4 linked regions of the Homo sapiens genome follow. The protein of the gene in region 2 interacts with the protein of the main gene of each other region in a pairwise test. Each region holds a gene or a part of one and is shown on either strand. Other genes may lie near its edges. The genes, in order: SLC39A2, UBE2J1, ZDHHC15 and SLC26A5.

Region 1 (8,281 bases), on a different chromosome or scaffold from region 2:
GTAATCATCCCAGGCATTTATTTTAATATCTAGCACCTTTCTCCCTCTCCAAGCACACTGCTTTTTAATCCCTCAACACAAGGCAGCTGGAAGGAGATAGAAGCTCAAAGAAGAGCAATAGTGTCCCTGAGGCCACACAGGGCTCGGTGTGAAAAAACAGGAACCTAATGGAGATAGGTTCCATTCTGCCTGATCTCCATTTAGCCTGGACATGTTATCGGTGGCTGATAATGGGTACTGGGAATGGGGTGGTTATGGTAAGTGTAGGAACATAATCGATCCACGTCATTTTGGCTTTTAACTTTCTTTCCTTTTAAATGCTGGGAACTGGCTCATTTTCTCAACTACAGTGGGTAAGGTGGGAGGGGAATTTTAGCAAGGTGCCATGTCTAGGGGTGTGGCTGCAACTGACAGGATGGCTAGGAGCCCTAATTCCAGAATAAAATACTGCATTCAACACTCATCCTTCCCATTCCCCATTCCACCACTTCCTGTGCCAGGTAGCATCTAGGCAACCAGGAGAAATGAAATCCAGAATGGCTGAAGGAGGGTAAAATGGGCATTTTATTACACACAGTAGCATAAATGGGATAAGAATAAAATCTGGAGCGTCTCTGTACCAATTCTCCAATTAATAGCTGCTCAACCTAAATATCTTTGTCTTAGTCCAGGGTGAGAAATGGGATCTCATGTAAAGGAAACCTGGGGTCCAGTCCAGTCCTACTGAATGCTATTTAGTCTGAGTAAAGAAATGTCTGAGGGTCAAAGCCATTTGGGAGGTCTCCCTGGGGATAGAGAGGTTGTCCTAAATAGGTCCATCAGAAAAGCCAGGAATCTCTCAGGCCCACAAGGCAATAAAGGCCATGAAGGCAAAACCAGCGGCTACACAGCTCCACTTAGCTAGAGGGGCCTCAGGACTAGCTAGCTCCCGTGGAAGAATTTCTAGGAAGGTGACATACAGGAAGGTACCAGCTGCCACACCCTCTAACACAGCCTGGGCTAAGCCCCGCCCTCCTTCAGAGTCCCCTCCAGTCACAGCCAGCCCTACGGCTAGGCCCAGGGGGGACATGAGAGCTAATAATAGTATGGAGAACACTGCCCATCGTGAGCTGGTACCTAAATGCACTAGCCGCATTCCTACACCAAACACCACAAGCCCCTTATGAGCCAGGACAGCAAGGCAGAGCTGCACGGTAGCTGCTACTGTCGGCTGCAGCCCCACAGCTAGCCCTTCAAACACTGAGTGAAAGGAGAGTGACAGCAAGAGGACAAGGGCTCGGAGGGGACCCTTTGAGGGTGAGGGTAAATGTCCATGGCTGTGGAGTTCGAAGATATGAGCCCCACCCCATTCTTCGTCCTGCACTGTCGATCCTCCAGCAGCCCCAGGACAGCACTGCAATGCCAGCGACTCCAAAAAGAAGACAAAAAAGAAGCCCAGGGAGATGATGAGCTCTCCATAGGGATACTCCATCTAGAAACAAAAAGAAGGGCTGTGAGATGGAAAGGAAGGGTAGGCAATACATTGGATGGACATGGAATTGGGAGATTGAAGAGAATGAGAAAATGTGGTAACAGAACACAAAAAAGGGTAGGGGAAATGAAGCCAAGAGTAGACATGGCCATGCAACAACAAGAATGCCAGAGTGGGCCGGACACAGTGGCTCATGCCTGTAATCCTAGCACTTTGGGAGACTGAAGTGGGCAGATCACTTGAGGTCAGGAGATTGAGACCAGCCTGGCCAACATGATGAAACCCCGTCTCTACTAAAAATACAAAAACTAGCCAGGTGTGGTGGCACGTGCCTGTAATCCCAGCTACTCAGGAGGCTGAGGCAGGAAAATCACTAGAACTCGGAAGGCAGAGGTTGCAGTGAGCCGAGATTGTGCCACTGTACTCCAGTCTGGGCGACAGAGAGATTTCATCTCAACAAACAAACGAAAAACAACAACAACAAAAGACTGCCAGAGGGGCTAAGGGACAGAATCTCAATAGAGTTAAAAACATGGGCAAATGATGTGAGGTATATCAGAGGATCCAGGGAAAGAATGAAAGAGTAAAACAAGGGCTTTCCCTGGCATTCTATAAACTCAAAAGGATTGGATTTGCTCCTCTTTTCCTCTACGATGTCTGAGCTAGGGAGCAGAAGGGATTCTTGGTACTCCTCATGTATTCCTCTCAAAAGGGTCTGGATATGAAAGGCCTCTCTGGTTCTCCTCACTCTCCAGATAGGGGATGGTGGGAGGTACTTACATGAGCTGAATCAGCATCACCAGAAGAATTTCTCTCACTTGCTGATCTGTTCTAAGAAGAAAGCAGCAGAAATTAGATGTGGGATGGAGCAGCACAGCTTCCTGTGCTGTCCCTTCAGCAATTCTGTTTTCCTTAAAGCCTAATCTGACTTGCTTTCACCATCCCACACAAGAGCTGTCATTTTCCTTGTCGTTCCACCCATGTCCTTGGCTCCATCACTTTCCCGCTCTCTTCCCTTTGTCCTGTTTATCATTTTGGCCTCATAGACCTGCGGCTTGAAATCTCTGCTCTCACCTGCACCATGAACTTCTGAATCTGTGATTCAATTTCCTCCAGGGCTTCAGCAGTCATATGCATGAACCCTGCTCCCAGGAAAACACCAGCAGAAATACAGCCCAGGAGTCTGAGGACTAGCCGGTGATGACCTAATAAAAAGCAGAAGTTACAACCCACTTGACACTGAGGAGACAGACAAAGGTGAGTAAAGAGCAGCAGGCAGCACTCAATATCCCAAGGTTGGGGATGGTGAGAGAATCAGAGCAAGGTATCAGGACAGGGTTGAGGTGAGACTCAGGCTATGGAACAAAGATGGGGTAGGGCTATACCTCTGGCTGCATCAATCTGGAACCATTTGAAGCAGATGGGAGTAAGGCCACAGCCCAGAGTGAGAGCCAACAGGGCAAACAGGCAGCCAAGTTTTATTCCTAGTAGTTGCTCCATCTCTGGGGTGTAGGGTAAGCCCAGGAGTCAGAATGACAAGGGAGCTGTAATCTTTGGAGCAGGAGTGGTATCTTAGGTGGTCAACACTGGAGTGTCCACTCTCGTGAGTTTCAGGAGGCTGTTGGTATCTTCTTTCTGTGTTGCTTCTGCTTCTGCAGCATTGCAGAGCTGACAGATCCTGCCCCAGCTTCTAGCCCTCCCCCTGCATGGAGGCCCCTCCCCTGGTTCACGCCTTCCTGAGCTTGGAAACCAGAAACTCCAGACTCCCTGCCAGGCACAGCCCAGTGGCGTCTTCTCCTCCTCTTCAATGGCATGACTAATCCAAGAGCTACGGATAGTCTTAGTTCATGTGCTTGGGGTTGGTCTAATCCAAAATAGGAAAGTCTATGGTAGCTGCTTCCCAGCTATTTTGTACTGGGGACAATCTGGTCCTGTCTCACTCAGGACGTTTGATCTAAGCCTTCCATACCCTCTCCACCTCATCCCAAGTCTTATAGGTTGCAATGCTGATACTTGAACCACCCGCTTTCAGAGATTTGGGGCCACCTGGAGGTAAAGAGGTGGGGCTGAGAGGTGGTGCTGGTGCTACTCTGTGGGAACTAGTACCCACATGAGGGAACTACCCTTTCCTGTAACCCCAGAAAAATAGCTCCAGGCATGGAAATGTCTAGTGGTAAGTTGATTTGTTTTTTTTCTTTCTCTTTTGATTGGGATCAGTTTTGAGAGGAATGAGTTGAGATGTCTGGTATTACAACATTTATACTGTTACAACTTCTAACTGTGCCTGTTTCCTGGTAAGAACTGTGGAAAAAAAGACATTTAAGGTTTAAGACAAAGGAAGCTGCTCTAGCCCTGAAACAGCAAGGCTTAGGGGAAAACAGAAATGAACTGAGTGAATGGGAGGATTCTACCTGGATATAGAGAGGTGGGGGTAGAAGATTCAGTTCTGATGGGAATCACTCTTGATGGAAATGTCTGGGGCATTTCCCATACATACTCTAGGGTAGCTGAGGGACCCTGGGAAAGACAGAAGGGAAGGCGTTAGTACAAGAGGCCAGGCAGCTGCTGATTCCCCTATTCAGGTGGCCCACATAACAACCCTGAGACCTGTTGAGCCAGTTCTCAGAGCTCTGGAGGCAGCTTTCCTTGCTACTCCAGATTATTTTCCTAGGGAAGTCCTGGCCTCTGGTAGAAGCAGTATTCTTACAGTGTTACTGGATGATTCTTACAGTGTTACTGGTCCTGCTGCTTGTTCTTGTGGTCCGGTAATGAGATGCAGACAGACAGACTGGGAAAGACGGGAGTTTATTTCTGCAACTGATTACAGGGAGGTCGGAGTAGCACACCAGACCAACTCAAAGTTACAAGCTTTTCTTTAGCTTTTATATACAATTCAAGCTCTATGACTACCTGCGGGAATGTTTCCTAATTAATCTAAACTAGGGGTCTGCAGGTAGAAGTTTTTTTTTTGTTTTTTAGAAACAAAGCAATAAACGATTTGATTTAGAAATAAAACCATTCCCATTATTGCAGCATTATCATCAGTCACTGATTGCTAATGCTGTTTACGCTTCTTTTTCCCTGGGATGTCTGAACCTGGCAACTTTTCTTCCTGTTCTTCTATTTTCTTAGCAAACCCACATCAAGGGTGTCTGTTCGCGTTTGAAATTCATCGGCACCAGAAAGAGCTAACATGTTGGCAGTATCTAGAAAACCATCAACATGAGCATGGGACAGTTCGCTTTGCAGCTGATCCCACCATAGTGAGTGAGTACTTGCAGACAGAAGTTTCTTAATCTTAAGTTGGTCCTGGGATGGGTTGTATGTGCAGGAATGCTTTTATCACTCAGCTAGATCTGAGGTAGAGAAAGTATAGGTGGGGCTTTAAAGGGCTTGCTTTTTTTGTATTCTGGCTTTCGTACTCAGGCACCAGTTTCCCCCGATTCCTTATCCATTTTTCTTGCTTCTGCTTTAATGTTTAACTTGTACATTCATCATTATAGCAAAGGGCTTATGGAAATCTGGTTTTTCTACTTCTGCTTTAATGATCAGCTTACACATTCATCATTACAGCGAAGAGCTTATGGAGCTCTGAACTGCCACAATAGGAGAGGGCGAGCTTGAGATTTGTGTGGGAAGCCTGGCACCAAAAATCTGAGGAAGCTCTTCATTACAGGATAGGCCAGGATAATTAACTATACCTTTTACATGTTTTTTTTTTTTTTTTTTTTTTAAGGGAGGACGTCTTGCTCTGTTACCTATGCTGAAGTGCAGTGTTACAATCAAAGTTCACTGTAGCCTTAACACCTGGGCTCAAGTGATCCTCTTGCCTCAGCTTCCTGAGTGGCTGGAAATGCAGACACATGCCACCGTGCCCAGCTTCTACACTTTTTAAGAATCACAAAATCCACTTCCATTCTTCAAAAATTTATTATTTATTATTAAAAATCTCAAACAAACACAGACATATGGGGATACCAGCATTCCCCTCCTGGATACCAGGCAGCTTCAGCCCTGGCAGGCACGATAGAAGAAAATACTTGTTACACATCCTCATCAACTCTCAGAGGGATCCTGAGCCGTAGATGGAGGAAACGCAGACGGAGTAAGCACAGGTAAAAGATCTCCCCAGGAGCTGACACGGGCACAACGATACAAATCCCTGTGGAAACAGATGCTGGCGTGGGCTGCAGCTTCCTGCCACATCCCACTGATTTTGGTCACACCCCCCATACCTGCCGTGCCGGCGGGCTGTGAGCACAGCATGCTGCATGTGCCCATCTGGACAGCACAAGTGACAATGCACATGGCGAGGCCGTTTAAGGACAGGCTGAGTGATACGGGGCCAGCGATGAGCCTCCTCTGGAGACCCCCGAGCAAGGATCACCATAGAGAACTTTTCTTCCTTTGGTTTCTTGTTCTAAGATAAGGAACATAGAGACTGTTTAGAAGAAAAAGATATGGGAAAAAAGTTTGTACAGTCCCTTCTTCCCCATTCCTGCAGTCCTTTTTTACAATGTATAAATCATATACATGTAGGCCCTAAAGTCTCCAGGCTATTCTACAAATTATCCAACTCCTCCTAACTCTGATTCTTTTTCTTCCTGTTTTTCCAGGATGTTTGCTTCCTGCTGCAATATCCCCAGGTACCTACCCAGCTGAAGGGGATGGGATGGTACGCCTGTGAGAAGCTACAGGCCAGGTTGGTCAACTGGGGACAAGGGAGTTCATGGGGACACTGTGAACACATAAAAAAATGAGGTAAGACAAAAGAGCCATCAATCACAAAACTTAAAAACTGAGAATAATAGAGTCAAAAGGGGCCAGGGAGAAGGGAGGACAGGAGCAGTGGGTAGGAAGAGCCAGGGGAATCATTAGGTAGGAACTGGATAGGAACACAAAGTAGTGGAGAGTGGCTTAGCTTTACCATCTTACATTTCCCGGCCACGCCTAAGTTCAGATCCGTGTGGTGGGACAGGCAGAAGTAATACTCACCGGGGCAAAGACAAAACCAGGTCGAGGGTCCAAAGGTGACTTCTCTTTTCCCTGAAATCAAAGGAAATAAAAGAAATAAAGCTGGGCCAAGGGTCTATTTTCATAATTCAATCTCTGCACTCAGTAAACTGAGGACTCCTTTAACACTCAATTCTAATAACGATTGACTATGTCCTTTGAATTAAGCTGGCTGCATCTTTAATACTCCAAACAAAGAACTTTCTCTTTGCTGCAGGAGAAAGGCAAGAACTTGGCACATAGTACGGTGCTCTCCCTTGTCAGCAACCTCCACTCTCAAAAAAATCCCACTCCAGGACAATTAAATTTATGATTATACACTGGCTCATACTCTCCCCCAGTGACAAGGTTCTTAGCTCAGCAATGCCCTAGATTAGGAGTCCGCAAAGTTTCTTTTAAAGGGCCAGAGAGTAGGCAAAATCTATCTCTGTCCCAACTACTCAACTCTGCTGTTTGTAGTGTGAAAGCAGTCACAGACAACAGAGGCACAAATAAGCATGGCTTATATAAAAACAGGTGGCAGGTCGGATTTGATCCACAGGCTCTCATTTGCCAACCACTGCTCTGTATCATAATGACTTCATACGCCCAGTTTCCTGAGAGCCACCCTTGTCAATACATGACAGTCTCTTTCGTTTTCAAGAGAGTAACAGTAATTGGTGCCATATGGGTGGGGGAGTGAGGGAAGAAGAAGCCTTACCTTAAGGACCAGATCCCTGGCATCCATGAGAAGGCTGTGCCCAGCTTTTGTTCCATTCTCCACCAGTACCTGTTCACAAAAGGGGAAAATATGCAGAAGACTTGAATTACACGAAAGTATAAATGTCAGTAGCTGTGTAAGAGCAATCATAGAGGGAGAAGGAGTCCTAAAAAGAAATAGGCATTACATAATCAGGATGGAGACCCTCAAAGAGGGATAAAGAAACCCATGAAGGAGAAAAATGGTGAAGAATAAAGACAATGAGAGGAGCAAAGGCATGAAATCCATGAAGCTGCTTCAAGACTTAAGGAGAACAAGGAATTTTAACTCACCAGGAAATGACCTGTCTTACGCCATAAGGTTTGAACTACCTCAGTGCGGTCAGCCTTGCTGGGCAGTTCACTTAAGGAAAAAGCTGACACTACTACATCAAACTGCACCTGAGGACCAAGACAAGGAACATGACAGACTCAACATCTCTACATCCCAAGAATACAACAAAGTCCTAGCCGCTAAATTTCTTTTATCTTCTAACACTCAGTGCTGGGCTGCAAAGCTCAAGCCATAGTTTTCCATCTGCCACATTCCACATTTAGAATATTCTAAACACTGCCACTTGCCTTGGGTGATACAGGTAGAAACTGTCTGAAAAAGACACCTGGAATATAAGGCTCCCCAGATTCTGAACCACCTGTGGAGAAAAGAAGAGGCAACTGTGAGTGTGTAGGAAGTTAGGTATAAACTGAAGAGATATCCAGATAAGAAACATGGCCCCAAGAATAGGTAAAGTGTATATCAAAAAGGGCAGGGATGAGCCAGGTATGGCGGTGCGTGCCTGTAATCCCAGCTACCCTAGAGGCTGAAGTGGGAGGATGGCTTGAGGCCAGGAGTTTGAGACCAGCCTGGGTAACATATGGAGACCCTACCTCTAATTAAAAAAAAAAAAAAAAGGGCAGGGAGAATATTAGGCCTCCTGTCCTTTGATTCTTACCCAACCCATCCTCAGTCCAGCAGAAACCTCTAATACCACCCTTTGCTTGACTATAACTTTAAAAGTAAACCAGATTCATCTTAATTTTTACCCTCTTCTCTACTTC
Region 2 (7,332 bases):
CTTCCAACATTGTTTGACTTGTAAAAAAATTAACTTACAAATAACACTTTTGGAGCATAACCTATTTGAAAGCTTGGAACCACCTGTATTTAAAAATTAAATCTTCATTAACAACACCCTCAAGAGTGCCCTCAGTGCTGCGAACTGAACATGCTGAAGGCAATGTTTTTCTGTGATTATATGGTTTCACCAGCCATTATGATGATAATATTATCTACTAGAGTCTGTGGCGCTAGCTAGCACTAAGTTATATATTGATTTTTCCACTGAAAATTCTTTCTTGGGCTCTGACTAGGTGGACAATTCTAAGTAAAGGTTTTTCTAACTTCTATCACTGTTACTTGGGCCCTGAGGTTTTCTATTAAAATAGGACATGAAATATTTCAATATTATGCATATTCCTGGAATAATTAAAATTTATACTGATTATAAAGCTAGGCATATAATACATCCCAAAAGACATACATTTCAAAGCAGACCAAACATTCAAATCTTCAGATCCCCCCATTTAACTTCTGGAAGAAAACCAAGCGATCTCCTGGCTTGGGCCCTTTCTTCCTTAAAAATCTATGGAAGACTGTTTTCTTTCTTTTTAAATTTGTGTGATTATGGCAGCAGAGGGCAGGGGGTGGTGATAACAGCATATCAAAGTGGTTACAAAGTACTCCCTCTTCAAGTAGCATCCAGTGACAAAGATGTGATCTCATTTCCTCATAAATGTTTGACTGAAATAAAATTATTTTCACTGAAGAATGTTTAGGACACAAATAAAGTCACAGAATGAGCAATTCCAGTACATCTCCTATGAATGACATTTTAAGGAAGCTACTTGAGGAGTTTTGCTTTCCCTTTTCAACTCTTCTATCCCTATACATTCTACATACGTAGAAACAGAGTACTCAATAAGTGGTATTGAGTAACTAGTAATACTCATTGGAACTTAAAACATCATCTTTTATCCAAAAATTTCAAAGGGCAATATAGGAAAGTATTACAAATTTACATAAAAAGAAGATGAAACATGAGAAAAAACAAGTTATTTCCCTGCAAAGCAGATCAAATAGTGAGACAAGGAACTTTGACTTCTAGTCCCTTTAAGCAGGACGTAACTGCTAGACACAGTCTGAATGTCTAGATATATTTATACTAAACTTACAAGGATCAAAAAAAGGAATGAAGGGTAAATACAAAATAATCTTTTTGTAAACAATTCTTAGATTATACCCAATGCAGAATGTTTAATGAAGCAGTTGAGTCACAGCTCATAAGTCACAAAACCATATTATAACTCAAAGTCAAATATGTATTCGTTTGCCAGATATATTCGTCGGAATATAAGAGCTGCCAATGCCAAAGTCAGGATGACAATCAGTACAGCTGACCCACCATGATCAGTGTGGTTGTCTCTTGGCTGGTGGCCCTGGATTACATCTGGTGAAGTAGACAACCTTCTCTGACTCTGCTGCTGGGCCCGGCGCTGTCGAGGGCTCATGGAGGTATTCTTAGCTACAGGTTGGGTAGGTTGATGAAAGGATGCTGCTGAGGAATTCTGGAGTCCGTACTAGGAAATTTTAAGAAACTTTGTTTGAAACTGGCAAAGAAGATTTGTAAATACACTTGTTATCTATTCAAGAATACACAATCTCAGAGGACAACATATGACTAAGGGCAACACTACCAAGAATGATTGTTACTAATAATACATCCCTTGAGGGGCATCTAAATTTAGGTTCAAAAAAAAGTCATAAGTTAGGACAGCTTTTTGGCCTTTTAATAGTTTTATTAATATATTTAGAAAAACAATCCCTTAAAACATTGGTCTAGATGATATTTTAACACATACGCTTAATGAAAATATGTATATACATATAATGTTTTAATTAGGTTCCTATGTTTCAGATGCCTTTTGTCTCTATTTTTTTAATCATTATTTTTTTAGAGATGGGATCTTGTTACATTGCCCAGGCTGGTCTTGAACTCCTGGGATCAAGCGATCCTCCTGCCTTGGCCTCCCAAAGTGCTGGGATTATAGGCATGAACCAACGTGCCCAGCCTCAGATGCCTTTTGGATGGTATATCACTAACTAAAAATTAAGTGCCTTGATATTATAAAATTCTAAATTTTTTCCTATTTAAAACAATCATACAGCACTTTGGGAGGTTGAGGCAGGAGGACTGCTTGAGCCCAGGCATCTGAGACCAGTCTGGCCAACATAGTGAGACACTATCTCTACAGAAAAATTTTAAAACTTAGCCAGGTGTGGTCATGCCCACCTGTGGTCCTAGCTACTTGGGAGGTTAAGGCAAGAGGATCACTTGAGCTCAGGAGGTTGAGGCTTCGGTGAGCTATGATCACATGCCTGCACTCCAACCTGAGCAACAGAGTGAGACTCTCCCTTAAAAAGATAAAAAATCACATTCTTAGTTAAGTCCCTAGTGATATATATATAAATTTTTCTAGAATAACCAGCATGTGTGAGGGAGTTTTGCTTTTTATTATAAAATGAAATGGCTTATTCAGAACCTCGATCCCTACCCTGGGAAAAGGAGAAAATCTGACAGACTGCAAGAACAAAACTGCCTTCAGTGTTTTTCCCATTTCTACATTTCCCATTGCTTTTTGATGCTAAAATATCTGCATTAAAAAGCAACAGATGGCCTGATGTTATCTGAGGTATTTAGAGTTGTGGCAATCTCTTGCCTCTCCTTCAGGCTAACAACAACAAAAAAATCATAGCTTATCTGGGATTTGATGTATAACATCTCAATTAATTTATATTATACTTAATGTAAAATAACCACCCTTAGCCAAACCAGGTTTCAGTTACTTTCATAGTGGTCAAATTATATAATCATACTCTGAGATAGTTTATATGTAAATATAATTAAAAACTTAACTTGCAATTTTAGACAATTTATTGCTTGTTGGTATTTTCACTAAAAATAGTCTCAATTAATGACCTGTATCTATGAATAAGAATTCTAAGTTTTATGTACTAAATCAAAACAAGAAATACTACTATAATAACATCATTATTTGTACACTCTAATTTACTTAAACTTCTTGATTTATTTAATTGTATTCTTAGCATTTTTTAAAGTACCAATCCTAAGATTCATTCATTCAATCAACAAACAAACATTGGCAATCTACTATATAGAAGGCACTAAGCCAGGCACTGGGGATACAGTGGAGAAGCGGAAAGAGACCCCTGACCCTCACAGAACTTACATTCTGGGAAGAGAGATAGACAATAAATAATTACAAAGTAAATTACAACTGGAATAAGTATAACTGGAATATGTAACAAGGGGACTTAACATAGATTGAAAATACACAAAAGATTTAAATACATCACAAACATTAGGAGGCTGTCCTAAAAGGTGAAAAAAGATTACCACCTTCCTTTTTGTAATAGAATGCTTCTATTAGAAAAAAAACTATGAAATAAAAAGTAATTAGAAAGCTTTTTCAATATCTTGAACTAAAACATATTGACCTTAAAATTAATTCATTGTTTTCCCCTGCAATTCATAAAATTACATTGGGATCACACAAAAATGATTTAAACTCATCGCTACACACTTTTTTCTTGGACCTCCATCTTCAGTCCCCCTAGACTACCACCCTGTTCTTCTTCAACCAACTTTTCTCTGCCCAGCTCACTCTCTGAATAGGAGAGACTCACTCAAGACTATTCACTCCCACTTTACGTACGTTATTGCTGGGTAAAGGGCAAATCTATATTTGCCCAACTTCTATTTCAATTTTCCCTCACCCTTTAAAGTCTTCAATAAACTGGAGAAACAACAACAAAAAAAATGTGACTACTTAACCAAACAATCTGTTACCAAAAAGACTTCCAAAGACAGTTAATCTTTTATATATAGGAAGGAAAATCATTTTTTTCCCATAATCCTTATTTTTTGGCACCAATCCAGTCATATTTTTTAAATCACTCTCTCTGATCACCTAGGCCAAACAATTTCTTAGACAACAGGTCAGGGCACCACTAACAACACTCATAGCATTCATTCTTTTATTCAACAATTATTTATTGGACACTTAGTATATACGAGGTAGCATTGTCCAACAGAATTTTGTGATGATAGTAATGTTTATGTCTACACTGTCCAATATGGTACCCATTAGCCACATGTGGCTATGGAGCACTTGAAATGTGGTGTGACTGAGGAACTGAATTTTAAATTCTACTTGATTTTGATTAAATTTAAATGTAGACACCTGCATGTGGCTGGTGGCTACTGTGTTGGACAGAGCAAGTCTAAGTAAATTTTTGGCTCTACGACTTTATTAAGTCAGTACCTTAATGCAGCTGAACAATCCTGCCAAAAATAGTGTCTATTTAGAAAGTGGCTAACATATGGATATTTTGTTTTATTCAGTCTAACACTATATTAAAATTAACTTTTCAGAGAATCACAGAATTCTGGAGGGACAAGACAAAAATTATTTAATCCAGCCCCATTTAACAAAAAAAGAAAACTGAGGCCAGAAAGCATGAACAACTTGCTCAACATAATAATTCATTAGCGGGACTGATGAGTTAGAATCCAGTTGTTAAGAGAACCAAATTTTTCAGATATTTGATCCAGGATCTTCTCCTCCTATTGCAAACAGTGATAATGATAGAGACATACATATATATTAAAAGATAAGAGCCATACCGATGTACTGGCCGTAGCACCCTGGAATGTTGTAGGTATATCATCTTGTAAATCAGTTAGTGAAAAAGAGTGGTTTAAGTCTGACTCAGAGATAGTCTTTCCAGATGAATTGACTTCTGCCTATAAACAAGATAGACCCAAGAGCAGTGTGACAACAGGAAACAACAGGAAACATACACAATCTACAACCTGCTAAATCCTCTCTGTTGGATTTATTTTAATTGCTAGTTTAATATCTATTATCAGGCAGTTAATCACTGAGCACTCTTGTGTCCAACACTGTACTAGGTATCATAGGAAGAAGCATACACAACACCTGTTCTCAAGAAGCCGTTACTTGATGAGGGACAAAACTAACACCCATGGTTCACAATCCACAATGCTAAAAAGCTCTCAAAACTCAAGGTTTTTTTGGTAATTTTTAGGCAAAGCCTGATATGAGCTGATGTGAACCTATGAATAGTCTTTATCCCACATTAGTGTAAACATTAATCCCACATTAATGTAATATTCCCAGATTTGCTGAAGAAATCCTAATGGATTTGATTATGAGGTGCTGCCCCAGATCGCACGGCAGGTTAGTTAATATATGGTATATGTAAGATCTTTTCTTAAGTCTGAAAAATTCTCATGTACAAAACACATTTGGTCCTGAGATTTTTCAGAAGCAATTTTAAGTGTAATAGGAATCCTCAGAAGGAAGAAAGTAAACATGTTCTGAGCAACTCCTCCTCCAGGCACTACAATAAAAGAGAAGGGAACTGGACCTGGAAAGACAGACAGTCCATAGAGAAGTGGAGAGGGAAGAGGAAGAGAGCATGCTGCTTAATGCAGGTTGACATTTCTGTTTGTGAAGCTAATTAAATTCCAGAAGGATTAAATACTTAATACTTTACGTCTGTATGTATGTATGTATTTATTTATTTATATTTTTTTGAGATGGAGTCTCACTCTGTCACCCAGGCTGGAGTGCAGAGGCACAATCTTGGCTCACTGCAACCTCCACCTTCCAGGTTCAAGCGATTCTCCTGACTCAGCCTCCCAAGTAGCTGGGATTACAGGCACACACCACCATGCCGAGCTAATTTTTTGTATTTTTAGTAGAGACAGGGTTTCACCGTGTTAGCCTGGATGGTCTCAATCTCCTGACCTCGTGATCTGCCTGTCTCGGCCTCCCAAAGTGCTGGGATTACAGGCGTGAGCCACTGCGCCCAGCTAATACCTTCAATAATTAAATATTTAATACTCAAAGTATTAAAATATTATATAATCCTATGTTCGGGTAAAACATATACAGAAAAAAGGGATATATAGGAGGGATGCCAAAATATTAACAGTAGCTATTTCTTGGCGGTGAGATTATGAATGTCATTTTCTTTTTCTTTTTTCTTTTTTTTTTTTTTGAGATGGAGTTTCGCTCTTGTTGCCCAGGCTGGAGTGCAATGGCGCGATCTCGGCTCACCGCAACCTCTGCCTCCCAGGTTCAAGCAATTCTCCTGCCTCAGCCTCCCGAGTAGCTGGGATTACAGGCATGTACCACCATGCTTGGCTAATTTTGTATTTTTAGTAGAGACGGGGTTTCTCCATGTTGAGGCTGGTCTCGAACTCCTGACTTCAGGTGATCCGCCCGCCTTGGCCTCCCAAAGTGCTGGGATTACAGGCGTGAGCCACCGCGCCCGGCCATCATTTTCTTCTTGTTGCTTATCTATATATTCTGTAATAATAGCTAGAATTTATTAAGCACCAGGGACAGTTCTGAATGCAACACATGTATTACATATATTAATTCAATCCTCACAGCAATCCTATGATTTAGGTACCATTATTATTTATAGATAATAAAAAGGCACAAAGTGGTTAATTAATATGTCTGACATCATACTACTAATAAGCAACAGAGCTGGGATTTGAACCCTGGCATTGTATACCAGAGTTCAAGTTTCACTCCCTCACTATTCTATAAAGCTTTCATGAATGTAGTTAGGAATTTTGTAATAAGAAAAACATTCCATGCCAGTATTAAAACATTTCATGTACCCTATACATATATACACCTACTATGTAACCACAGAAATTAAAAATATAAAAATATGAAAAAAGAAAAACATTGGCAAATGTCATATTGTAATAGAACTGCATCGCTTTCCTTTCTATGCAGAATCCAGCAGTAAACAAAAGGGTTGCAAGATTAGCATTTATTTAAGAATTTATAGTACCTTAAAGCTTATTTGCCTAGCCAGTTCTTTGGCTTCTTGGTCAGCTTGGCTTGAATCGCTTCCAGATTTTAAAGGCAACAGGACATCCTTCATGGCAGAGCCACATCCTTCACAACAGAAATCTTGTGATCTAGTAGAAAAAGATTTTTTAAATGAAAATAAATAGTTAAATGTTTAATTCCCTCTCACTGAGACACTCAAATGCTCGATCATTAAACTTAAAAGAAAGGAACACTGGAAAATTCCACATCACATTTATCCACATGCTATGAATTAGAAAATTAATGTAATGATTATAGTCCTGAGACAAGTAAATGTTAGGCTGGCTTTAAAAAAATCCAGGGCTCAGATGCTATTTTTTCCAATAAACTATCTAAAGAAAAATAAGTTTTACATCTATACAATGAGAAAATTGTCTATTATACTG
Region 3 (7,781 bases), on a different chromosome or scaffold from region 2:
ATGGCCTTGGTATCAGGCAGCCTGGATTTCCAACTCTTCACTATTACTAAATGTGTGGCCTTAGGAAAATTTGATTTAACCTTTCCAAAACCCAGGTTGCTAATTTGTTACAAGATTGTTAAACTGATGATGGCAGGAGGGACTGGTTCAGCCAGAGTTGAAAGTCAAAGCTGCCTTATTCTCCTGACTTTTAAATAATGGGAACTGATGCAAAATGTTAAGAAAACACTGTGCAGGCCAGGCAAAATATATCTGAAGGCTACATCTGGCTTGTATGTCACAAAGTTTTTACCTCTGCATTAGTTTAGAGGAGACTGTGGCAACATACTGCCTGGGTTTTAAGTTTGGCCATTTACTAGCTCTGTGACCTTAGGTAAGCTACTTATTCTGTCTGTTCCTCAGTTTACAAACAAGTAATGATAGTATATACATTGGAAAGTTGTTATAAAGATTAAGTGTCTGTGTGTGTAGTCACCTAGAAATAGTACTTGGCATGTAGCAGTGTGGTGCAAGTATGTTAACTAAAACAAACAAATAAGTCCTACGCTTCCTTTCATCTGTTAATATTACATGACTAAAGAAGAACTTATAGAAGGCCAATTATTTGCAGTAACTTGGTCTTTACCTTGGTTTGCTCATCTGTGCCTCAGTTTACACATTTGTACAATGGAAACAGTAATGGTACCTGCCTCATATAGTTATTGTGATGATTAAATGAATTAATATATAGTTAATCTATCTACAGAACTTAGAACATTTTCTGGCACAGAGTAAGCAATACATAAGTGTTAGTCATTATCATCATTAATTTTTAAAATATATCTTGGTGAAGCTCATATGAGTCAATACTGAAAAACTCCAAAATAAGTTGTTTACAATATGGCATTGATCCTAGGAGCAATGTCCATACCATAATAATGGTGCTGAACTTTTGACCCTTCAATCAATCATTCAAAAAGCCAAAGTAGTAAGGTCTGAGAATAGAAAAGCTTCCCAGTCATTGCATAGTCTACTTAATGCATCCCAATACTGGATTGAGATACAAAAGAAAACTAGGCTAACTTGTATCTATGAAGGCAACTAATGACATTTATTTTAAGAGCTCTTTCTGCATTTTCCATAATATCTCTAAGGAAGAGGTAAAAAAAATTCCAATTGTGATTCAGAGAGGTAATTAGAATTAGAATATAGGAAATTATAGAATTAGAATATAGAAAGTTCTATATTGGAAAAGAGGATCATCTCCTGCCTCCCTAGTTTATCCCAGTCTACCTGGGGTAGACTATTGCTTTGCAAATATGTAACAGAAGAAAATTACAAATGGAGTCAGGTCCCGGAGTTCAAAAAAGCAGCATCCTTACCATCATTTTTAAGGTGAGAAGAGTTTGGTATGAAAAAATAAAGAAGTCTCAGAAGGACTTGGGAGTGAGGGGATGTCCAATGGGTCAGGAGTCCTACTGTGAGAGGAGTATAAACATATTGGAGCCCCAAACTAGATGAATAGGGAACATTGTAGGCCACAAGTTTAAGGGTGCTGGCGATGGAATTACAGTGTCGAAGTGACAAGACTGACAAGTATTAGTGGAATCTCTTTTGAGAGGAGACAGGGATTCTTCAATGTGAGAAGACAGGGACAAGGGGAGATTTTACTGTGAGAAAAGCAGGGACCCTATTGTAACAAGACAGGATATAATATGAAAACGCCATTGTGAGTTGATGAGAGCATTGCAAGGCCAATAATAATAAGAATGGGGAACGGGGGGAATTAAAGTGGAAAGTGGGAATAATATAAGGGAGAGACTTGGGGTTTGTGTCGGGAAATATTGTAGAATTCTGAGTTTGAATGCACAAGCTATACTGTGAGAACCATTTTGCAAATAAGGAGGATATAGAGTGCTCCTTAGTGTGACAGGACAGGGTAAAAAAAGATCATAGAATTATAAAAGGGGTAGTCTAATGAGAGGGAATGAGAAATGATATGCCCATTGGGAGGAGTAGAAAATATTAGAAACCCCAGTAAGAAAGAATGGGGTTTCCCCAGTTTGAGAAGATGGGACAAGTGCAATCCAATGAGAAGTAAGAAGAAATAATAATAAGAAATCCCAAAGGAAGTGGATGGCAGAATGTGGGGCTAAAAGTGAAAGAACACTGTGGGAGGTGGGGAGTGGGTTTCCTAAAAAAGATAACGAGGAATAATGATTAGAAAAGTAGCGGCCCTTTGATGGAATAGGAGATAAATTACGGAAACCCTTGTGGGAGGGTAAAAGAGGTGACTCTAGTGGGAGAAGGCACTATCATCATGTGACAATAGCAGGGTCACCAGTATAAGGTGTCAGAAAATAATGTGGGGCTCCTAATGGGAAGGAGTCGAATGCTCCTCAAAGCAAGAAGGCAGGAGACTGGAGGGAACTCCAGTATAATATAATCAGGGCCTCTCATGTGAGAGAGGATGTATTATAGAATACCAATCCCATTAAAGAAAATGATTAAATGGGGGGAGCCCACAGGGAAAGAGAATGGAGGGCTTACCACTGTGTGAAAACGGAAGATCTTAATGGAGTAGAATAGGGTGCACTGTGGGATCACAAGTGGACAAAGATATGAAGCACTTCAGCCAGTGTGAGAGGATCACGGGAAAACGATAGATTCCAGTGTGTGAAAAAGGAGAGCTAGTAAGAGAGTAGAGGAAATATTTTGGAACTCTCAGTAGGAAATCCCTAGTAGGAAATCCTAGTAGGATTCTAGTAGGAGGGAAAATGGTGGGGCTCCTAGTTGGATGCATTGGTGAGATTCCTAGTGTGAGCAAACAGTTTAAAGACACAGGGTATGTTGTTTCCTCAACTTGGTACAGTAGGGGCTCCCAGAAGGAGAGCACAAGGTGCAGATGGTTGCCCTGTATGAGAAAAGGGAGCCCTCGTGGGAAGAGCCAGGACATTATTGTGGGTAGGGCAAAGAAATAAGAAACCCTAGGTGGGAGACGATGGAGACACGGCGGGACCCTGGTGGGAGGGCGCAGGAAATATTGTGGGAAGCCAGAGGCTGGGGACAAGGAACTCTCCAGGGAGAGAAAGGAAAACCGCAGAGAGAAGGCTTGAGAACACAAGGGACACCAGTGTGAAGGTAGGGCAAACGATTATATTGGAGTATAATTTCCCCACCTTAGGTGCCCAGCCCCACTTACCCAGGCAGAGTTCAAAGACGTAGGCATAGTAGGACCAGAGCACGACGAGGACAATAACGAGCACTGGCACCCAGGACAGTACCCGGCGGCAGCACCGCAGCCCCCCAGACAGAGCCATCTTCCAGCCTCGCCGCATCTTTGGCTCGAAGATCGACCAAGCAGGCCTGCTGGCGCCGGGTCGGAACCGCTAGGGTGGCGGCTGCGAGGCTGGAAGGCGCGCTGTGCGGCACTCCACTGTCTAGCCTGGCGGGAACCCTCTCGCGGAGCCTTCGCCACCTGTGGGGCTGCGCTGCTGAGTGCGCCCTGCCTGGCACAACAGGCTTGAGTCACGGCGTTGAGGAACTAGCCATGTTGGAGCGGAAGGGTGATCCGTCAGGCAGTCGGAGCTAGCACGCTCAGAGGGAGTGCAGTCCCTCCCCTTTCTGCCTCCTCCCCACCCTGTTTCAAGGCTGGATGCAGGGCTAGACCTCCGCAAAATCGTGAAGCCGAAGAAATTTGGGTCCGCCCATCTGCTCTTACTGCACTGCGTCCGCCCTCTTTGTTTCTGTCTCAGTCTCTCTGTCTCCCTTCGTTCTCTTTCTCTCCCCCTGCTACCCCCCCCCACAGTTACACACACACACACACACACACACACACACACACACACACACACGCAGTGTGAAAGATGCGAGCCATAGCATCTCGTAACATGAAGGCCATCCAGCTCCATCCTCCCACTGCTGCTTGAACAATATGCTTAACACGTAGTGCCGCAGTCGCTGCTTGGGTAAGTCCTTTGACAGGGCACTCCCTCCTTCCCTTTTCCCTCCCCGCAGAATCAGCTTAGTATGTTTTTAGAACAAACACATTGGTATAAAAAAACAAATGAGGGAGACTGATTCTGAGAGGGGTCAGGGAAAGCTACAAAGGTAGCGATATTTAAGCTGAGCTATATTAATAAATTCAGGTTTTCCAGGCAGATGAGAGGAGGAGGACCTTTTAGACAGAGGAAACAGCATTTACAAAGTCATAGAGTAATGAAAGTCCAAAAATGTTCCAGGAGCAGCTAGTGTGGCTTGAAGAGTGTTTGTGAAGAAGAGAGGCTAAGAATGAGACTGGGAGTATGAGGCCATGGTGTGAAGGCTCTTATATGTCCTAGCATGGCATGGGGACATAATCATGTAAAGCAGATTATGAAGAGCCATCAAAGGTTTGGGGGAAATGGAGTGACATCAGGGATATGTTTTTGTGAAATAACTGGCAGGATTTTGGAAAGGAAGATGGCCTTGAAGTAGGAAGATCAATTAGGAGGTAATTTAATTCAACAAATGTTTTTGGAGTGGTTGCTTCCTGTTAGATCAACTTTGGTACAAAAAGAATGACAAAATAGTGGGCCTGACCCCAAGAAGCTCATGTTCTCATTGGGGCTGTAGTTGTTCATTGACACAAGTACAATAATAGAAGTACAGCAGGCTCTTGGCATTTATGGATTTGACACTCACTGTTTTTCCCAAAGGTCTTTTACATGGAGAAATTTGTGATTTTGCTGAGATGCATGTGTGATTCACATTCTGTGTGACTACTGTGTGGGAGCAAGTGTCTCTACGAGGTTGATCTCTGTTCTTTATTTATGGTTATATATGCAGTAAATTACCTGAAGTGATAAAAGATTTATTGTTTCTTTTCAGATTAAGCTAATTTTATGGTTGATGTTACTAAATTCATGATGCAATGAAATGCAGAGTTCATTTTAGTTACAATATTTAGTAGCCTAGTTAATTATTTGAGCCCTAAGTTTCTGACATGTATACTTAAATTTTCCAATATTCATAATTCGGGGCTTGTGGAACATGTATATTGGGATTGTCAAGGGTATACTATTTAAACCAAGTAGCCTTGAGGAGGCAATGATTAAGTGTGAAAGGGAAAGTCCCAGTTGGGTTTTGAATAATGACTAGGATTTCACCAGGAAGATAAGAGATGGGAGCAGGATTTAAGGGAGGAGGGGATTCCAGGCAAAAGGAAATATGTAGTGGCAAATGTATGCGAAACAGCACAACATACTTGGGGGACTGCAAGTAGCCCGCTTTTGCTGGAAGATATTAACAGTACTCTAACCAAGAGATGGTAAGAGCCTAGGCCTAAGCCAGGCTATGAAGGGAAGGAGAGGAGGGGAAAGATGTAATAGTGTTTGGGGAAATCAACAGAATTTGTCAACCAGTTGGCAGGTGAGGAGTGAGATAAGTTAAAGCTAACAGCCAGATTTCTAACTTCAATGCCTGAATGAACAATGTTGCCAATCACTATGATAGGGGCTATTGTGAGAAGAGCAGAGTTCGTGGGGGAAGTTGATAACTTTCACGTTTTGACATGATTAATTTTGCCTAAGTCTTCCTCTTCTAAGGTAGCCCGATCACTAATCAAATAGTCTGGGGCCGGGGGGCTTATGACAGGGATAGCTCACACCCAAAGGAGCATGGAGGGCCAAGAACCAGAGAGACAAACCATGTTCAAGTGTATACATCAAGGATTGGCAAACTATGCCTATGGGCCAAATATGGCCCACTGACTTTTTATGAATGAAGTTTTATTGGAACACATTCATGTCAATTTGTAGTCTATGGCTGTTTTGTACAATGCTGAGTTGGAGTAGTTGTGACATAGGTCATATAGCATGCAAAGCCTACATTTATTTAAATTTATTTTTAAAGACTTTATTTATTAGAGCAATGTTAGATTAACAGCAAAATTGAAAGGAAGGTTCAAAGATTTCCCATATAACCCCTACCACCACATGCATAGCCACCTCCATTATCAACATCCCCCACCAGAGTAGTACATTTGTTAGAATCTGTGAATCAGCATCAACATATATTTATCATCCAAAGTCCATAGTTTCTATTAGCATTCACTATTGGTGTTGTACAGTCTGTAGGTTTGGATGAATATATAATGACTTGTATCCACCATTACAATCTCATATAGAATATTTTTGCTGCCCTAAAACTCCTCTGTGTTCTACCTGTTCATCTCTCCCTCTCCACAACTCTTGGAAACTATTGATTTTTTTTGTTTTTTTTTACTGTTTCCATAGTTTGCCTCTTCCAGAATGTCATATAGTTGGAATGATACAGTATGTAACCTTTGCAGATTGGCTTCTTTCACTTAGTAATATGCATTTAAGATTCCTCCATGTCGTTTCATGGCTTGATAACTCATTTCTTATTAGTGTTGAATAATATTCCATTTTCTGGATGTACCACAGTTTATTTATACACTCACTCACTGAAAGACATCTTGGTTGCTTCCAAATTTTGGTTGTTATGAATAAAGCTGCTATAAACATCCATGTGCAAGTTTTTGTGTGGACGTAGGTTTTCACCTTATTTGGGTAAATACCAAGGACTGAGATTGTTGGATCATGTGGTAAGAGTATATTTAGTTTTGTAAGAAACTGCCAAAGTGTTTTCAAAAGTAGCTGTACTATTTTGTGTTTCCAGCAGAAATGACTGAGAGTTCCTGTTGCTCTACATCCTTGCTAGAATTTGGTGAGGCCAGTGTTCTGGATTTTGGCCATTGGAAAAGTCTGTAGTGGTATTTCATTGTTTTAATTTGCACATCTCTGATGACATATAGTGTGGAGCATCTTTTTGTATGTTTATTTGCCATCTATATATCTTCTTTGGTGAGGTGTCTGTTCAGGTCTTTAGCCCTTTTTTTGAGATGCTTGCTTTCTTATTGTTTAATTTTAAATAATTTTTGTGTATTTTAGATTACAGCTCTTTATCATGTGTCTTTTGCAAATATTTTCTTTCAGCATGTGGCCTTTTTATTCTCTTGATAGTGTCTTTAGCAGAGCAACTTTTTTATTTTAATGAAGTCCAGCTTATTAATTCTTTCTTTCATGGATTGTGTCTTTGGTGTTCCATCTAAAAAGCCATCACCAAACCCAAGGTTATCTGGATTTTCACATATGTTACATTCTGGGAGTTATACAGTTTTGTGTTTTATATTTAGGTGTGTAATCCATTTTGAGTTAATTTTTATGAAGGGTGTAAGGTCTGTGTCTAGATTTATATTTTTTGCATGTGGATATCCATTTGTTCCAGAACCATTTGTAAAAATGATGATCCTTCCTAGCACTTCGGGAGGCCGAGGCCAGTGGATCACCTGAGGTCAGGAGTTCGAGACGAGCTTGGCCAACATGGTGAAACCCTGTCTCTACTAAAAATACAAAAACTAGCCAGGTGTGATGACATGCGCCTGTAATGCCAGCTACTCAAGAGGCTGAGGCAGGAAAATTGCTTGAACCCAGGAGGTGGAGGTTGCAGTGAGCCAAGATTGCATCACTGCATTCCAGCCTGGGAGACAGAGCAAGACTCCGTCTTTAAAAACAAAATAAAACAAAACAAAACAAAACAAAACAAACAAGGTCTTTTCTCCATGGTATTGCATTTACCCCTTTGTCAAAGATCAGGAGATTTTATTTATGTAGGTCTATTTCTATTTCCAGGTTCTCTATTTTTTCCACTGATCTGTTTGTCTATTATTTCATCAATATCACAGTGTCTTGATTATTGTTGCTTTATAGTAAGTCTTGAAATTGGCTAGTGTCAGTCCT
Region 4 (7,332 bases), on a different chromosome or scaffold from region 2:
TCTAGTGGAAAGTTCCAAGGCTGAAATCTCTCTTTGTAGCTTCTACCAATTAGGAGGCATTTTTACCCAGTCTACAACTTTATAGTTGTTACTCTTTTCTTTTTATAGTTGTTATTTATTTATTTATTTATTTTTGAGACACAGTCTTGCTCTGTTGCCCAGGCTGCAGTGCAGTGGCATGATCTTGGCTCACTGCAACCTCTGCCTCCCAGGTTCAAGCAATTCTCCTGCCTCAGCCTCCTGAGTAGCTGGGATTACAGGTGCCTGCCGCCACACCCAGCTAATTTTTGTATTTTTAGTAGACACGGAGTTTCACCATGTTGGTCAGGCTGGTCTCGAACTCCTGACCTCAAGTCATCTGCCTGCCTCGGCCTCCCAAAGTTCTGGGATTACAGGTGTGAGCCACTGTGCCCAGCCTTATAGTTATTCTTATCAAACAATTATTCTTATCATATGCTGATGTCTCAATGTAATATTATAAAATCCAGAAAAGGAACCCTGAAGCTGAGTCCTGAGCAATTGGAAAGAATTAAGGGTTGATAGCAAAGTACTCCAAAGGTAAATACATTGAAAAGCTTTTAGGAGCTCAAAGAGAGAGAAATTATTGTTAGCAGGACTTTGAAGTCAAGAGTGCTGATGTTTGGGAAAGGAACCTAGGAGAACTAGAGAACAAATCCACTTAATTATATCCTAGGGTTACCAACTGGGCACCTCAAATATAGTCAGTTCTCATTTGAAACCCAATAAAGTAGACTTCCCACTCAGCCCACAACATGCACCCTTTCCTATCGATGCCTAGAGTACTCAGTATGTTTTATTTCCTTTGTGACAAGGCATTTCGACAAGTCTCAGAGTAAGAAGTATGATAATAGCTATTATGGGAAACTAAGAATTTTGTTATTTAGAGAATATTCCTAAAGCCTGATTCCATTTTTATCAGTCAGGGACTCAACTTAAATGTCAAAGTGCCTTTCCTAGACCCCTAATCTAAAGGTCTCCCTATTTAACTTTCAGAGCAGCTGGTACTTCTTCTTCATAGCACTCAACACAAATTGTAATTGACTACACATGTATGCGATTAATGGTTTACAATCTTCCCACTGTACTGAAAGCTCCAGAGGGCAAGGCCTGTATCTTCTTAGCTCACAGCTGCATCTTGGCACCTAGCAGTGTCTGGCACATAAATACCTACAAAGGCAACAGGCCTCTCTTTTCAAGGATAGCTTTAACAGCATCTCAGAGGTTTTGATATGTAGTACTTCTACTGTCAATTAATTCTAATTATTTCCTAATTCCCTCTTTATTCATGGGTCATTTAGAAATGTTTTTTGGTTTCTAAATATATGGGAGTTTTAAAGCTATGTTTAGTTTTTGATTTTTTTATTATATTGCACTGTGTGAAAAAACATTGAATTTTTAGAATTTGTGATCAGTTTCACATGATCGATTTCAACATGATCAGTTATTACCATTGTTCCTTAAGTGCTTGCAAATAATTTATATTTTCTCTGTGTTTGGTAAGGGGTCTATATAATTAAAAGATTCATGTTAGTTAAATCTTTTATAGCCTTACTTATTTTTTGCCAGTTTGAACTAGCAGGTTTTGTTTTTTTTTTGAGACAGAGTCTTGCTCTGTCGCTCAGGCTGGAGTGCAGTGATGGGATCTCGGGTCACTACAAGCTCCACCTCCCGGGTTCACGCCATTCTCCTGTCTCAGCCTCCTGAGTAGCTGGGATCACAGGTGCCCGCCACCACACCTGGCTAATTTTTTTCTATTTTTAGTAGAGACGGGGTTTCACTTGTTAGCCAGGATAGTCTCGATCTCCTGACCTCGTGATCCGCCCATCTAGCCCTTTCAAAGTGCTGGGATTACAGGCATAAGCCACCACGCCCGGCCTTAATTAGCAGTTTTTGAGAGAGAAATGTTCTACCTTCATGCCTTTAAATTATTTGTTAGTTTCCAAAAAGATCATGATTTAGTTGTAAGAAAAAGCTCTCTCTTTACCTAGAGTGATGGTGCAGTCACCAAATAAAGACCTAGCAAAAAATTCCTTGTGAAGTAGGCAGTATCACATATTAATAACAGAGATTTTAAGGTTTAGTTCTCTTTGTAACACTCTTTTCAGAAAACCTTAGAATAAATGAATTTTTCCCTTTTTATGGAAATTACTGGAGAAAAAGAAAAATGAGTCTTGAAAGTAAAAAGAGATACAGAAGAGAAGGTTGGGGGGAATAAAGAGAAAAGTACCAGAACGTCAGGTAGTTTCTTACTTACATACACCACGGAAAAGATTCCACTGTACCGCTTTGTTTTAACTCCAAACAGATATTTTAACATGGAGGTGAAGACATGCACAGCTGCTGCGGTGGTAAACCCACGGACCAGAGGCTCTGTGAGATATATGGCCACAAATCCAAACCTACAGACACCTAGGCAAAACTATTTTTTTTTAATGACAAAGAAACAAATGAATCACATGATAGGTCAGGAAGTTATGACCCACAGCAAATATACAAGTTCTTTCTTGACCATTTTCTTTTTTTTTTGAGATGGAGTCTTGCTCTGTCACCCAGGCAGTGGCACAGTCTCAGCTCACTGCAACCTCTGCCTCCCGGGTTCAAGCGATTCTCCTGCCTCAGCCTCCTGAGTAGCTGGGACTAAAGGTGTGTGCCACCATGTCCGGCTAATTTTTGTATTTTTAGTAGACACGGGGTTTCACTATGTTGCCCAGGGTGGTCTCGAACTCCTGACCTTGTGATTCGCCTGCCTCAGCCTCCCAAAGTGCTGGGATTAAAGGTGTGAGCCACCGCGCCCAGCCTCTGGACCATTTTCTAACACTGCAAACTTGTACCTCAAGTGGGTAAGTAGCTAGAAAATCAACCACTGGTTATACAGAAAACAATGGAAGGTCTGGAGTGGCTTGGTGCCCCACAGTGCGCTGACCACACTAATGCCTTCCCTGTCTCTCATTGAGCTGGGGGCATGCTTCATCATGTAGACTAAAGTGCATGATCATGATCACTGGCTGTTTCTTCCAAGCAGAGAGGAATGTCCTCTCCCAGCACTAACCAATCCTGCCGTGTCAAACTTGTCTTGCTTTTGGGATCTTTAAAACACCCACCTGAAGCTTGCTTGCTCGTCACTCATAGTTGTGAATATGGCATGCAGTTGGTCTGCAGTTACTCCCAGAGCTCTGGGGTTTTTCTGGCTGACCCCATCCACCGTGTAGTAAGACCAGCCAAGAGCACTCAGTAGATACTTGTTAGGTTAACAAACGAGACAGTCCATTTCCCCATCTTTGAGCCTTACCTGAATGATTCCTGAAAGTAAGGTCACAGACATGGCGACTTTCACTCTCAAGGCATCTCTGGCCTCTGTGCCATTGGTTGCATTTACTCCTCCTGGAATGACTATATCATCTGGTACTAATCGAACAGCTACACCACCAATCATCAGGCTAATAACAGCAAAAGGACCTGAAATAATGAAGCATGAAGATCCCTGTTCAGGGTTCAGAGTATCTGATATGGTTTTTGCCAGTACACCAAGAGACAAAGGTGAGGTCAAGAAATCATGCTTGAAGGAAGGCTACGCTCCCTTCTTTAGTGTCCTGCCCCTGGTGTATGAGCAACCGTGTGTGTGCGTGTGTGCGCATGCAGACTGTATTTTCCAAAAATAGACATAGCAATATCTTCCATCCACAGAGTCTTCTTGACATTTCCCCATCAAGAGGTGGAGTCTAATTTCTCTCTCCTTGAATCTGGCTTGGCTTTGACTTGTTAGTAATCAAAAGAATGCAGCAGAAGTGACGTTGTGTGACTTCTCAGGCTAGGTAATAAAAGGGCTGCAGTTTCCACCTTCTGCTGAAGCCCTAAGTCACCATGTGTAAGAAAGCTCCAACTAGGCCAAGTGGAGAATTCCTGGGACTGCATGGAGAAAGGAAGGCAGGGAAGAGGGAAGGGAGGGAGGAAAAAGGGAGAGAGGAAGAATTACCCAGACCAGCCCTTCCCAAGTCCTGAACTGCAGGCACTATGGAAGATACAAACATGATTGTTGTTGTAAAGCTGCTACATTTTGGGGGTATTTGTTACCAAACAGTAGATATCTGGAAAGTATGTGTGTGTTAGGTAGTAGCCTTATGCAGCACCAGAACTATTATGAAATCCATATGCCCCTGATAAACTGAAAATATGTACAATTCAGAGCCCAAAATATGACAAAAATGAAATACATGCATAGCGATTAGGAACTTGAAGTACTACCATTAGTATAAAAATAAAAACCAGAAGCTGGCAAATTACATTATGAAATCAAGCATTTATCTCATTTCACAGATTTCAACAATTGCCCTTTTACACAAGAAAATTGTCTTTTTTATTATCCCAAGATTATAAGAAAATTGTAAGTTCTAGAAATCTTGGGAGGAGTGTAGTTTTTTTTTTGTTTTTTTTTTTTTTGAGACAGAGTCTCGTTCTGTTGCCCAGGTTGGAGTGCAGTGGTGTGATCTCAGCTCACTGCAATCTCTGCCTCCCAGGTTGAAGCGATTCTCCTGCCTCAGCCTCCTGAGTAGCTGGGATTACAGTCACCCCTCACCAAGCCTGGCAAATTTTTGTATTTTTACAAAGAGATGGGGTTTCACTATGTTGGTCTGGCTGGTCTCGAACTACTGACCTCAGACGATCTGCCCGCCTCGGCCTCCCAGAGTGCTGGGATTACAGGGATGAGCCACCGCACCTGGCCGAGTGTAGGTTTTTAAAGCACCTATTGTGTATGCAGTAACAAAAGTTGTTATTAAGACAATTTTTAATAATGACCATGCTATTTCTTTGGCACATTGCAAGGTTGGAAATACACAAGGAAAGGTAATAGAATATCAAATGTAAGCTTTTACCTATGGATATGTGTCTGGAGGTTCCAAGAAAACAATACATGATAACAGGGTAAAATGAAGAGTACAGGCCAAATATTGGAGGCACAGCTGCCAGCATTGCAAAGGCTAAGCCTGTGGGATTAAAAACCAAACAGAAATGGGGGATCATTAGAAGACAGAGGTGTTACATGTGTTTTTCTCTTGGTTCTTTATTTCTGATGAACGAGTGAAGCCCATCTTAATTTAAGCTGCAACCTGCCCTACCCCAGTCCTGCACATCATCTTACCTTGGTGCTGATAGAGTCCAAGCTGAGAAACTTTGCATTGTCATCTCCTTTTTGCCAGTGGGTGATTTTTTTTTCTGCTTTATTCTTTCACAAATTAGATAAAAGCAGAAAAAAGTCTTATCTTAGTGGTTGTCATTGTAATTTGGTGTTGACTCACAAATGCGAGCTCGTTCTCCAATGGGGTGTTTTTGTGGGTTCTCTGGAGACCCCTTTGCAATAAGGGACTCTCAGTTACTATGCCCTAACCTATGTAATGCTCCCTCCTCCTGACTCTTAGATATCCCTCCTCCGACTCTTATCAGAAGGTACAGCCTTCCACGTTCTTTTGGCTGGTGTATGCTCATCCTGTAGGCAGTCTTCTTAGGCAGGTACCTATCAAATGGGCCAAGTCTCATTACCTTCCAGTTACTCAATGGGAAAGCTTGACATTTTACTCCCAAGAAACTTTGGAAGTGCAGGTCACACCCTCTAGGGGACTCTTTCCCTCACTCTGCGGTCCTAGGCAGTTCACATCATCCTTTAGACATTTTTTTTTAAATAGAATTTTTAGAGCAGTTTAGGTTCACAGCAAATTGAGCAAAAGATACAGAGGTTTTCCATACATTCCCTGCCCTTATGTATGCACAGCCTCCCCCACTATCAACATCCCCCACTATCAACATCCCCCACCAGAGTGGCACATCTGTTACAAGTGATGAACCTACATTGACCTATCACTATCACCCAAAGTCCATAGTTTACATGAGGTTTACTCTTGGTGTGGTACAGTCTATGCAAATGTACAATGACAGGTAGCCATCATGATAGTGTGATATAAAGTAGTTTCACTGCTCAGAAATTCTCTGTGCTCTATTCATACTTCCCTCCCCCCATCCCCTGGACACTAATGATATTTTTACTGTCTTTGAAGTTTTGCCCCCCCCTTTTTTTTTTTTTAAGACAGGGTCTTGCTCTGTCACCCAGGCTGGAGTACAGGGGCATGTTCATGGCTCAATGCAGCCACAACCTCCCGGGCTCAAGCAATCCTCCCACCTCAGCCTCCCTAGTAGTTGGGACTACAGGTGTGTACCATCACACCTGGCTAATTTTTGTAGAGACAGAGTTTCCCCATGTTTCCCAGGCTGGTCTTGAACTCCTAGGCTCAGGCGATCTGCCCACCTCAGCCTCCCAAAGTGCTGGGATTACAGGCATAAGTCACTGTGCCTGGCCAGTTTGGCCTTTTTTAGAATGTCATTCAGTTGGGATCATACAGTATTAAGCTACACCAGGCTGACTTCTTTCACTAAGTAATAAGCATTTAAGGTTCCTTCATGTCTTTTCATGGCTTGATAGCTCATTCCTTTTTAATATTGAATATTTCATTGTTTGGATGTACCACAGTTTATCCATTCATCTACTGAAGGCCATCTTGATTGCTTCCAAGGTTTGGCAATTATGAATAAAGCTGCTATAAACATCCATGTGCAGGTTCACTTGAAAGTTTTTTAAAAACTAGTTTTTAGAGCAGCTGGACTTTTTCATGCAAGAATTAGGCAGCAGTCTTCACAAACTCCAGGGGGTACTGTTCAGCACGCTGAGCAGCTTTCTTGTAGTCCTTTCTTACTTGACTACAGGTGGAGGGGAAATGGATAGGGTTTTAACCTCTCCCTGGAAAATTCTCATTCCAAATCAGTCTCCTCGTTCCCTCATATATTCTGTTAAAGTGACACACTCAAGAGGGCCTGGGTCATTCATTCATAGCTTGGGATAGATTGACTGGCATCCCTCTTCAGAATGTGTAGGCAATAAGCCCTTTTTATTCTCAGCTTTGGGGGCTCAGCCAAATTTCTGGGACAATTAGAAAACTCATTTAATGCACTGTTATGCTGTGGAGAAAACAGCTTTAGCAAAAGAAGAGTTGGGAAAGCATCCTAACTTCATGTATAATAACATGGTCACTCGAATGTTGTTAAAAAAATTTATTTCTAGCAAAGAAATGTATGCATACGATTTAAAAAGCCAAGCAGCAAAGGCTCTCTGGAAGAGCCAGCTCTTTTCTGCTCACCCCTCTTCCTCCAGGTTTTGCTCCTCGGAGCCAATCACTTCCAACTCGTTTAGCTGTTTTTCTCTATTTACCTCCATTTTCCTAAATCATCATTCTCAAAGGAGAGCGCTCCCCCACCCCCACTTCTGGC

The links.
Region 1: the proteins of UBE2J1 (region 2) and SLC39A2 interact in binary tests that used the Homo sapiens proteins (3 or more experiments, as listed by UniProt).
Region 3: the proteins of UBE2J1 (region 2) and ZDHHC15 interact in binary tests that used the Homo sapiens proteins (3 or more experiments, as listed by UniProt).
Region 4: the proteins of UBE2J1 (region 2) and SLC26A5 interact in binary tests that used the Homo sapiens proteins (3 or more experiments, as listed by UniProt).

Annotation. Positions count from the first base shown.
Region 1 is NC_000014.9:20,994,137-21,002,417, reverse strand, and holds SLC39A2 (zinc transporter ZIP2), read right to left. Parts: upstream 3,126-8,281; 5' UTR 2,972-3,125; coding exon 2,857-2,971; intron 2,677-2,856; coding exon 2,546-2,676; intron 2,303-2,545; coding exon 2,252-2,302; intron 1,472-2,251; coding exon 839-1,471; 3' UTR 547-838; downstream 1-546. Other genes in the region: METTL17 (ribosome assembly protein METTL17, mitochondrial isoform 1 precursor), read right to left, coding at 5,535-5,891, 6,126-6,209, 6,467-6,517, 7,185-7,253, 7,517-7,624, 7,805-7,875. UniProt on the Homo sapiens protein: Transporter for the divalent cation Zn(2+). Mediates the influx of Zn(2+) into cells from extracellular space. The Zn(2+) uniporter activity is independent of H(+)-driving force, but is modulated by extracellular pH and membrane potential.
Region 2 is NC_000006.12:89,328,397-89,335,728, forward strand, and holds part of UBE2J1 (ubiquitin-conjugating enzyme E2 J1), read right to left. Parts: intron 7,036-7,332; coding exon 6,906-7,035; intron 4,810-6,905; coding exon 4,690-4,809; intron 1,592-4,689; coding exon of another isoform or gene 1,562-1,591; coding exon 1,283-1,561; 3' UTR 1-1,282. UniProt on the Homo sapiens protein: Catalyzes the covalent attachment of ubiquitin to other proteins. Functions in the selective degradation of misfolded membrane proteins from the endoplasmic reticulum (ERAD) and is essential for cells to recover from ER stress.
Region 3 is NC_000023.11:75,519,708-75,527,488, forward strand, and holds the start of ZDHHC15 (palmitoyltransferase ZDHHC15), read right to left. Parts: upstream 3,331-7,781; 5' UTR 3,318-3,330; coding exon 3,182-3,317; intron 1-3,181. UniProt on the Homo sapiens protein: Palmitoyltransferase that catalyzes the addition of palmitate onto various protein substrates.
Region 4 is NC_000007.14:103,408,110-103,415,441, forward strand, and holds part of SLC26A5 (prestin), read right to left. Parts: intron 5,004-7,332; coding exon 4,893-5,003; intron 3,478-4,892; coding exon 3,311-3,477; intron 2,441-3,310; coding exon 2,276-2,440; intron 1-2,275. UniProt on the Homo sapiens protein: Voltage-sensitive motor protein that drives outer hair cell (OHC) electromotility (eM) and participates in sound amplification in the hearing organ.